Linked DNA regions of Homo sapiens. The protein of the gene in region 2 interacts with the protein of the main gene of each other region in a pairwise test. Each region holds a gene or a part of one and is shown on either strand. Other genes may lie near its edges. The genes, in order: HMG20A, HEMGN and TLR2.

What was found.
Region 1: the proteins of HEMGN (region 2) and HMG20A interact in a two-hybrid assay, tested with the Homo sapiens proteins (one study listed by BioGRID).
Region 3: the proteins of HEMGN (region 2) and TLR2 interact in a two-hybrid assay, tested with the Homo sapiens proteins (one large-scale study listed by BioGRID and IntAct).

The regions. Positions count from the first base shown.
Region 1 is NC_000015.10:77,423,736-77,427,393, reverse strand, and holds part of HMG20A (high mobility group protein 20A), read right to left. Parts: intron 1-3,658. UniProt on the Homo sapiens protein: Plays a role in neuronal differentiation as chromatin-associated protein. Acts as inhibitor of HMG20B. Overcomes the repressive effects of the neuronal silencer REST and induces the activation of neuronal-specific genes.
Region 2 is NC_000009.12:97,928,038-97,931,695, forward strand, and holds part of HEMGN (hemogen), read right to left. Parts: intron 3,185-3,658; coding exon 1,998-3,184; intron 1-1,997. UniProt on the Homo sapiens protein: Regulates the proliferation and differentiation of hematopoietic cells. Overexpression block the TPA-induced megakaryocytic differentiation in the K562 cell model. May also prevent cell apoptosis through the activation of the nuclear factor-kappa B (NF-kB).
Region 3 is NC_000004.12:153,690,719-153,694,376, reverse strand, and holds part of TLR2 (toll-like receptor 2 precursor), read right to left. Parts: intron 1-3,658. UniProt on the Homo sapiens protein: Cooperates with LY96 to mediate the innate immune response to bacterial lipoproteins and other microbial cell wall components. Cooperates with TLR1 or TLR6 to mediate the innate immune response to bacterial lipoproteins or lipopeptides.

The DNA.
Region 1 (3,658 bases), on a different chromosome or scaffold from region 2:
ACCATTAATCACACTCATAAGATTTTATCTTCAGAAAAAAAGTCAAATAAGGAAAATAGCTATAGTTTTATTTAATAGTGCCTGGCACATAAAAGGCACTCAAATATTTCTTCAAATGAATACCTTTATTTGTACTGACTTCTCCAAATCACTGCCCTTGGTTCCTTCTCATTAAGATTTATCTATTTTTATTACCTGAGGAGAGCTTTAGAATCAAATTCTAACATCTTTGTCTAGTCTCTATTCTCCCATCTTCCCCAGTAACTTTGTTTTGATTGCTACTAGACTCCTTACCTTAGAATACTCCCACTCTTTAAACTCAGCTGACCGTAACACAGAAACCAAAAAGACCATATACCACATCCTTGACCTAATCAAGAAGAAATCTGAAGCTTCCTTCAAGGTCATAAGATGTTTTTCTCCTTTGTTAATACCTCTGTAGTCTAAGTATTTACCAAAATCCCTGCTACATTAAGACAAAAACCCAGAAGCTATCCTCATATCCATCCTCACCTGATCCTTAACATACCTTTAGCCCTGTACCTAGCTGCTTATATTTCTCTCTAGGATCTGAGAAAGAATGATCATTTCCTTGCTTTCACACCTCTTGCTTCTTTCTTCTGGCTCCATTCAAAATTCTCTATTCTTCAAGTCTAAGTATCTCTCTCTTTTAGATATAATTCACATACCATAAAACTGACCCCTTTAGTGTATATTTCAGGATTTTTTTTGTACAGTTGACCCTTGAACAACATGGGTTGAACTGCATGAGTCTACTTATATGCTGATTTTCTTCTGCCTCCACCACTTGAGACAGTAAGACCAACCTTTCCTCTTCCTCCTTCTCAGCCTACTCAATGTGAAGATGACAAGGATGAATACCTTTATGATAATCCACTTCCACTTAACGAATAATAAATAGTAAACATATTTTTTCTTCCTTATCATTTTCTTAGTAACATTTTCTTTCTCTAGCTTATTGTAAGAATACAGTACATAGTACATGTAACATATAAAACATGTGTTAATCAACTATTTATGCTATTGGTAAGGCTTCCAGTCAGCAGTAAGCTATTTACGTAGTTAACTTTTTGGGGAGTCAGAAGTTATACATGGATTTTTGACAACACAGGGGTTAGCACCCCGAACCCCCTCATTGTTCAGGTGTCAACTGTATATTAGTATACAAGATATTTTAGTATATAAGGTTATGCAACCACCACCACTATCTAATTCTGGCACATTTTCATCACTTCCAAAGGAAACTCCATACTAGCAGTCACTCCCATTCCCATCCACTAATGTACTTTCTGTCTCTATTAGTTTTGCCTAATCTAGACATCTTAAATAAATGGAATCACATAATAGGTTGCCTTTTGTATGTGACTTCTTTCACTTTAATATTTTCAAGTTTTATCCATGTTACAGCAGGTATTGCTACTTTGTTTCTCTTTGTTGCTGAATAATATTCCATTGTATGGCTATATCGCATTTTGTTTAGTCATCCAATAATTAATGGACATTTGAGTTTGCCTTTTACAAATAAGGCTGCTACAAATATTTGTGTGCAAGTTTTTGTGTGAACATGTTTTAAGTTCTCTTGGATATATACCTAGGAGTGGAAATACAAGTTAAGTGTCCAAATATTTGATATAAAAATCTATTTGGTTTCTGAGTTCAGGTAGCAGAGGGTATCTCTCACAATGCAAACAATTCTATATTAAGCTCTCCATGCCATCCCTACTCAAACACCTACCATCTTCAAAGTCTGCAGATATTAGTAACAATTTACTTTTTTCCAATTAAATTGAGGAGCAGAGATCAGTTCTTACAGCTCCAGTTATATAGGAGGTGCTTAATATATGCTTATCTGACACCCTAAGAAGCTCCCAAATGAGAGAATGATGACTTACTATTCACTCTTTCATTTTATAGATATTTGAGTGTCTAATGTATGATAGCCATTGTGCTGATGCTGGGCATAATTGTGGACAAAAGTTATTGATCAGTTTTGTCATACTCCAAGAGCCAGCTCACGTCCACAAATATTTACTGAATACCTATGATGTGAATGGTCTTGTGCCAGGTATGACAGCACAGAGTGGAATAAGACCTAGTCTGCAGCCTTTTAGGGAAGGCATAAACTCTACCTACAACAACGCAATAAAAACAAACAAGAGGAGCACTGGACAGTAAGTGCTGTAAGAAAGGTATAATGCTCTGGAGAGTTAATGGACAGAACGTGTACAGTTTGGGAGAGTGTAGAAGAGGATGGATATCAGAAAATATTTCTTAAATGTGGTACTTGAGAAACGACCTCAAAGAAAGTGGCATTTTGATAGATGGGGATTCCTAGGAAAAAAGAGTGTTTCAGGCAGAAAATAGCATGAGCAAAAAAAAATATTAATGCTGGGTGCAGTACAGATTTTTTTCCCCCCAGAGGCGATCCCGTTTGGATGTGTAGATGAATAATGTGAGGTATGATCATAGTGTGAAAGGTCATTTTTGGTTTTCGTATTTAAATAAGTTTAGGAGAATGAGTTGAAAGTCTGCCTGTAACAATTCAAATTACCTTAGTGATTTGTGCCAAGATTAAGATTCCTTTTCTTGAAACTTTTCTATTTTGTATATCTTCTAATCATGGAAATTAGTGATTTCTCCTTCCCACAAGGAAAAAAAATTAAATCTTGACAACTGTGTGAGCATGCTGATAGGGGGACAAGGCTGAAGCTCAGTCAGTCTACCACTGCATCCCATACTGTGGGGAAAATGTAAAGCTTAAAACAGACATGTGGGCAAATCACAATAGCCAGAGTAGCAGAAGCAAGATTGGGGGTAAGATAATTGCATTAATGAAGCTTCTGGCACCAGGCATTGGACCAGGAGATTTACATACAACATTCTGATTCCACCAAACAACCCCATTTGGATTTAGGAAAACTGAGGCTTAGGGAGGTCAAATAAATTGCTCATGGTTACCAAGCTAGTAAGCTCAGCCAGTAAAATGCAGAGACCAGTGCTGAATTTGGGCCTATCTGATCCCATATTTTCCCCACTGTTCACTCTCATTTGTTTTCACAATACAAAAGAAGCTAGAATGGTAGGAAAATGATACATGTATCAATGAAAGGGACTGCATATTTAACACAGGGGCTTCTATGGTCTGGAGAAAAATTAGGCTGAAACATTCAAATCTGGGTTTAGAATGGCTTAGAGATTAAGACCAGGAGAGATCAAGTTTAGGGCTGCTTCTTTACCCAGTCTGAACAACGATCATAACATAGATCTTATTTAGGAATACCAAGGGAGCAAAATTCTAGTTTTAATTTGTAAATTAGAGAGTAAACTACAGTAGAATATGAATATTTGGCCGTATTTACTGTATTCAAAGTCCTGAGAACAGTGACTGGCATATAGTAGACACTCTAAACTTTTGCTTAAATAATGAAAAGTCACGTAAAGGGTATTCTCATTTGAATACCTGTGAAGGCTATGAAATAGAGACAGCAAAGCAGTAAGGTGAAAAACCATTCAGGTTCTTAAGATACTTTCTTTAATCCTCAACCCTACGGCAAAAACAACAACAAAAACAAACCACCACCAAAACGACAAACAAGGAAAGCAACAGTTGCAAAACATTAGCCTGATTTTACAAAGT
Region 2 (3,658 bases):
TTTTTTTGAGCCGGAGTCTCGCTCTGTCGCCCAGGCTGGAGTGCAGTGGCGCGATCTCTGCTCACTGCAAGCTCCGCCTCCCGGGTTCACGCCATTCTCCTGCTTCAGCCTCCCGAGTAGCTGGGACTACAGGCGCCCGCCACCGCGCCCGGCTAATTTTTTGTAATTTTAGTAGAGACGGGGTTTCATCGTGTTAGCCAGAATGGTCTCGATCTCCTGACCTCGTGATCCGCCCACCTCGGCCTCCCAACGTGCTGGGATTACAGGCGTGAGCCACCGCGCCCGGCCGATCAAGTGTATTTTTTAACCTAGCAGACAGACAAGGATTTTTAAAATGTCATAATGTACAGTGCTGACAAGGGTGTGGGGAAAAGGCACCTGTCTCGTGTGAATTGCTACCACATTTCTGGAGGCTAGTCTGACTGACTGTATATTCAAACTTTAAATTTGGGTACCGTTTGGCCCAACAATTTGATTTCTAGGGGTTGATTCAAAGGAAATAATCAGACAAACTTCAGCCTCCAGTGCCTCCATTTCCTTATATTTAGAATGGGAGTATTATTTATCCAGTAGAGCTTTTAACATTGAATAAAATAAACCACATAAAATATTTAATATGGTGTCTGGCACATAGAAAAGTACCAGATAAATGTTAACTAAATAAATGTTATTCCCAATGATGTTCATTGAACATTGTTGTAATAGTAAAACTTGGCAGTAACCTAAGTGTTCATCCTTATAGAGACTGGTTGAATATACATATAGCACAGTACTATGCAGTTGTTACAAAAGACATCATAAAGATGGCTGCAATACATATTGTAAATGAAAACAAAAACAAGTTACAGGATAGGATGGGTACTGTCTCATTTGTTGAAACAAAACAACCTTAACATTGGGAACTGAAGATAGAAGATGGTATTATAGGGGACTTTTACTTTACTTGATATTCACTTACATATTGCTTTATTATAATGAACACTTACTACTTTTATAATCAGGAAAAATAGATATTCCCATTTATTTGGTCAAACAAAGCCAAAAATAAAATAAGCGTTAATTAATTGACCATATCGACCTTGCTGGGTTTAGAATGAAGCAGTTAGGAATCAGGACGCTGTGTTGGTTAGAGCTGCTTCTCCAGCAGGGTACTCCTGTCAGTGCACGTACTGCTTCACATGCCTGCTTTTGCTGCAATGTATTTCTTTAAAGTAGTTCTTCAAAACTGGTATTACTTGGAAACCAACTAGCACCATGTTTTTGTTGCACTCATCTTTTAGGATAAAGAGCAAGTAAACTACTAAAGGGATTTCTTTAGAAATCAGTTTCCTGGGGATAACTATGGTCTGATAGACTCAGTCCATTTCTTATACTGTCTACAGTATTGTACAAAGAGAGCTGAAGTTCTCAGTTATGTCTCTGAGGCAAGTGAAATTAAAGAAAGGTTGCATTATTTTCAAATTCCTATACTTAGGAAAAAGTTTTTCAGGAACAAATCTTGAAATAGAAAGGGTTTTTGGTAAACCTGATAAATCCTACAAGAATGAATTCCCTAGTAACAGGATTATATTTTACAGCTTTTATCTCCCTCAGTACTTCGTACTATGAATTTACCTGCTTTCCATTTATCAGGCAAATTAAATTTCCTAGAAAAACTTCATTCATCAAGCTTTCTTGTTAATGTAGACTTAATTTTTAAAAATATTTTGCAATAATTCATCCTATATTGGGTTCATTTCACTGACTATAGCATCTCATAATGGATGGATAGTATGAATAAGTACTTAATGTACATGCTTGCATTTTCAATTTTTTTAACTCTTTGAAATATGCCAAGACAGACGTTGGTTGCATGAAAATATTGTTCACTTAAAACTAGTCAATGAAATTCACAGTATCCATTGAAATAACAGGGAATACCCAGGATTGTCAGAGAAAGTTGTAAATCACTACTCTGGGGGAGATGTACCTACCTTGGTGCTATAAACAGCCCTTACCTTGAGGAAAAGTATAAGCATCTTTAGCATCTTCCTGGTGTGCTTTAGGATCCTGGCCTTGGGGCCCACCTGTTTCTTGGTGTGGTTCTGGAAAGCATTCTTTAGGCACATCCTTATTTTTATATGTCTCAGTAGAGAGGTCTTCAGGCCCCGGTGTTTCTTGGTATATTTCAGGTGAATATTCTTCAAGCTGGGATGTTTCTTGGTATATTTCAGGTGAATATTCTTCAAGCCCAGGTATTTCTTGATACGTTTCAGGTGAATATTTTTCAGACCCAGGAGTTTCTTGGTTTATTTCAATTGAATAGTCTTCAGAATGAGGTGTTTCTTGGATTGTTTTATGAGAGGGGGCTTTAGGCACAATAATTTCGTTACATGTTTTATGAGGAAGGTATTTAGGTTCAGCTGATTCTTGGTGTGTTTTTGTAGAAAGGTCTTTAGGCTCAGCTATTTCTTGTATTTTAGGAAAAAGGCCTTCTGTCTCAGCTATTCCTTGATCTGTTTCATTGTATTCCTCTGGTTCTGCTGGATTTTGGTCTGTGTCAAGAATATAGCCTTTAGGCACATCTGGTTTTGGATATGCTTGAAGAGAGCATCCTGCCAGATCAGCTGTGTCTTCAGATGTTGGACAAGGAAGGATTTTGGGTACAGCAGCTTCTTGGCACATTTTAGGAGCCAGATCTTCTCGTTTAGCCATATCTTGGTACATTTTGAAAGGATGGTCTTGAATTACAGATATTACTTGGCATGTGTTAGGAGAGTTGTCTTCAGGTTCCTTCATGTCTTGGCATATTTTGGAAGAATTGTCTTGAAGTACAGATATTTCTTGGTACATTTTAGGAGAGAGGTCTTCAGGTTCAGACACATGTTGGCATGTTTCAGAAGAATGGTTTTGTACTGCTATTTCTTGGTACTCAGAAAAATTCTCCTGATATATGTTACTTTCTTGACATATTTCAGAAAAGTGTTCCTCAGGCACAACTTTTTGCGGGGAGGCTACTGAAGGAAATACTTTGGTTATGCTCCCAGGTGGCTCAGTTTTTTTCTCTATAGGTGCCAGTGCTTTCTCCACTATTTCCTTTTCTATCTGTGGCTGAGGCTCCACCTTCAATTCTGTGTTTTGTTGTCTCTTTCTGCCTCTTCGATTTCCTTTTCCTGTTCTCTGCTGCTTGCGTTTTTTCTGTTCTCTGCAGAAAGAACAGAATTAGTGTCAGCAGTGGTACTACAGAATTCAAATAAATGCTTGTAATAACAGTGCCAGGTCCCCCACTGCCTCATTGCACAAGTATCATGAACTAGTCACTTAATCTCTCTGGGCCTCAATCTCCTTGTTTGTAAAATGAAGGAGCAGCTCTAGATGTTCTCAATTCTTAGGAGAGGGAATGTTTCTCCAGGACTTCGTGGCATTGATACCATGCTTACCAGGAGCCTTCTTGGTGAGGGTAGTGCATGCGCGTATGCGTGCGTGCGTGTGTTATAGCATATTCTTAAAGTTTTGTTATGGAAAATAAATAATTCTCATTACAAATTAATAGAGTGGCATTCTGGTTTATACACTAGTCTCTTTGCATTTAGTCTTTGTGTGTTACTTCCCTACCCCTGAGTAAACTCATACAAATCGAGTTTCTAGACCTGGCACAGCTCCTCGTCTGTGCAGCCTG
Region 3 (3,658 bases), on a different chromosome or scaffold from region 2:
ATAAACAAAATCTCTGCAGCACTGTGACATGTTTGTGATGGCCATGACGCCCACACTGAAGGTTGTGGGTTTACTGGAATGAGGGCAAGGAACACCTGGTCCACCCAAGATGGAAAACCACTTAAGGCATTCCTAAGCCACAAACAATAGCATGAGCGATCTGTGCCTTAAGGACGTGTTCCTGCTGCAGATATCTAGCCAGAGCCCATCGCTTTGTTTTGGCCCATCCCTTTGTTTCCTGTAAGGAATACTTTTAGTTAATCTATAATCTACAGAAATAATGCTTATCACCGGCTTGCTGTCAATAAATACGTGGGTAAATCTCTGTTCAGGGCTCTCAGCTCTGAAGGCTGTGAATCCCCTGATTTCCCACTCCACACTCTATGTTTCTGTGTGTGTGTCTTTAATTCCTCTAGCACTGCTGGGTTAGGGTCTCCACGACCGAGCTGGTCTCGGCAAGTGGCGCCCAACGTGGGGACTCAAACCCAGGATGAAGGCTCGCTGGAGCAATGGTTGGAAAACGTGGAACAAAGCTGGAGGATACCCGAGTACTCTTAAGCAATCCCCATGGTGAGTAAGAAGGGGAGCTCGGAAGCATCAGGGTAACAATGGGCAAGTGTGGGCTCTAGCTCATTCCACCTTGGAACCTTTTCACACTAAAGATGAGGAGGAAGGAAAGTATAATGAAGTAACAGAAGAGGTGACAGAGCAGGTTTGTTTGCCAGCTAAAGCTAAAGTGGCAAAGGAGGGAGAGGTTTGTCCCTACCCTTCTGCACCCCCTCATTATTTCGAAGCAAAAGAGTAGCCTGATCCTCCAGATCTTTCTTTTCCAGAGGACACTGGGCAAAAAGTAGTCGCCCCAGTGACTGAGCAGCACCTCGAGCGACCACTCTCAGTTCTATTCAGCCAGGAATTCAGCAAGTTAGAAGAGAGGGTGATATAGAGGCTTAGCAGTTCCCTGTTAGAATATACCCCGTAGATCAACAGGGAAATATTATAGCTACATTTGAGCCTTTTCCTTTTAAATTACTCAAAGAATTTAAACAAGCTATTAATCCATATGGAACAGGTTCTCCTTTTGTAATGGGACTGTTAAAGAAGGTTGCTGTCTCCAGTCAGATGATGCCAGCGGGGATGGTAGGATTACTTCTAGGTAGGTCTAGTTTAAATTTAAAAGGCGTGCAAGTACAAACAGGAGTCATTGATTCAGATTACAAAGGGGAAATTCAAATTGTTATATCTACTTCTGTTCCCTGGAAAGCAGAGCCAGGAGAGCATATAGCACAGCTCCTGATTATGCCATATGTGGAAATGGGGAAAAGTGAAATTAAATGAACAGGAAGATTTGGAAGCACAAATAAACAAGGCAAAGCAGCTTATTGGGTGAATCAAATTACTGATAAACATCCTACTGGTGAAATAACTATTCAGGGAAAGAAATTTAAAAGTTTGGTAGATACAGGAGCGGACATTTCAATCATTTCTGTACAGCACTGGCCATCTGCATGGTCAATTCAACCTGCTCAATTTAACATAGTTGGAGTTGGTAAAGCCCTTAAAGTATATCAAAGTAGTTATATTTTGCATTGTGAAGGGCCCAATGGACAACCTGGGACTATACAAAAAATTATAACTTCTGTACCTATAAATTTATAGGGAAGAGATTTATTACAACAATGGGGATCACAAGTTCTAATTCCAGAATAATTATACAGCCCTCAAAGTCAACATATGATGCATGAAATGGGGTATGTCCCTGGTATGGGACTAGGAAAAAATTTGCAAGCTTTGAAGGAAATGCTTCAAGCGGAAAGACAAAGTTCCCACCAAGGTTTAGGATATCATTTTTGATGGTGGCCATTGTTAAGCCTCCAGAACCTATATACCTTTAAAATGGTTAACAGATAAGCCAATTTGGATAGCACAATGGCTGCTGAGTAAAGAGAAACTGGAGGCTTTAGAGGACTTAGTTGCTGAACAATTAGAAAAAGGACACATAGCTCAACATTTTCCCCTTGGAATTCTCCAGTTTTTGTAATTAAGAAAAAATCAGGTAAATGCAGAATGTTAACTGACTTAAGAGCCATTAATTCAGTTATACAACCTATGGGGACATTGCAGCCGGGACTGCCTTCTTCTGCTATGATTCCAAAAAATTGGCCTTTAATAGTCATAAATTTAAAAGACTGTTTCTTTACTATCCCCTTAGCTGAGCAAGGCTGTGAACTGTTTGCATTTACAATTCCTGCAGTAAAAAACCTGCAGCATACTAAAGCATTTGTATTGGAAAGTGTTGCTACAAGGCATGTGAAACAGTTCAAAAATTTGCCAGACTTATGAAGGGCAAGCAATTGAACCTACTCGTAAAAAATTTTCACAGTGTTACATTATTCATTATATGGATAATATACTTTGTGCTGCCCCCACTCAAGAAATATTACTCCAATGTTATGATCACTTGCAAAACTCGATTTCTCATGCCAGTTTAATTATATAGCTCCTGACAAAATTCAGACTACTACTCCTTACTCCTACTTGGGGACCTTAGTAAATGACACTACCATTGTGCCACAGAAAGTAACTATACGTAGGGATCAATTGAAAACATTAAATGACTTTCAAAAATTACTAGGGGACATTAATCGGATATGACCTGCTCTAGGCATTCCCACCTATGCCCTGAGTAATCTATTTTCTATCCTTAGAGGAGATCCTAGTCTCATTAGCCCTCAGCAATTAACAAAAGAAGCTGAGGCAGAGCTGCAGCTAATCAAAAAGCAAATCCATAAATCTCAAATAAATAGAATAGATCCAAAAAAGACCCTAGATTTGCTAATTTTTCCAACTCAGCATTCACTTACTGGTGTTATTGTATAAGAGCAAGACTTTGTACAGTGGCTTTTTCTTCCACATACTAATTCACAGACTCTAACTCCTTATTTGGATCAAATGGCTACGATGATAAGAAATGGGAGAATTCGGATTGTTAAATTACATGGATATGATCCTGGAAAAATTATTGTCCCTCTCACAAAGGCACAAATACAGCAAGCTTCTATAAATAGTCTTACTTGGCAAACCCATTTAGCTGACTTTGTGGGTATTCTTGATAATCATTTTCCTAAAATGAAATTATTTCAATTTTTGAAATTAACTAATTGGATTCTCCCCAAAATAACTAAATTTAAACCAACTGAAGGTGCTGAGAATGTTTTTACAGATGGGTCTTGTAATGGTAAAGCCTCTTATTCTGGATCAAAAGGTAAAGTTTTTCACACGCCCTATACTTCAGCTCAAAAAGTGGAGCTTTAGCTGTAATTGAGGTATTGACTGCTTTTGATATGCCTATTAATGTGATTTCTGATTCTTCCTATGTGGTTCATTCCATACAATTAATTGAAAATGCTCAGTTATGACTTCATACAGATGAACAACTGATGACTTTATTTACCCAATTGCAAACAGCATTTAGGAGTAGAATGCACCCTTTTTACATCACTCACATTAGGGCTCATACACCTCTTCCAGGACCTTTAACTGAAGGGAATCAAATGGCTGATCGCCTAGTTGCTACTGCAATATCTAATGCTAGACACTTTCACAATTTAACCCATGTTAATGCCTCTGGTCTCAAATGCAGATATAACAGTACCTGGAA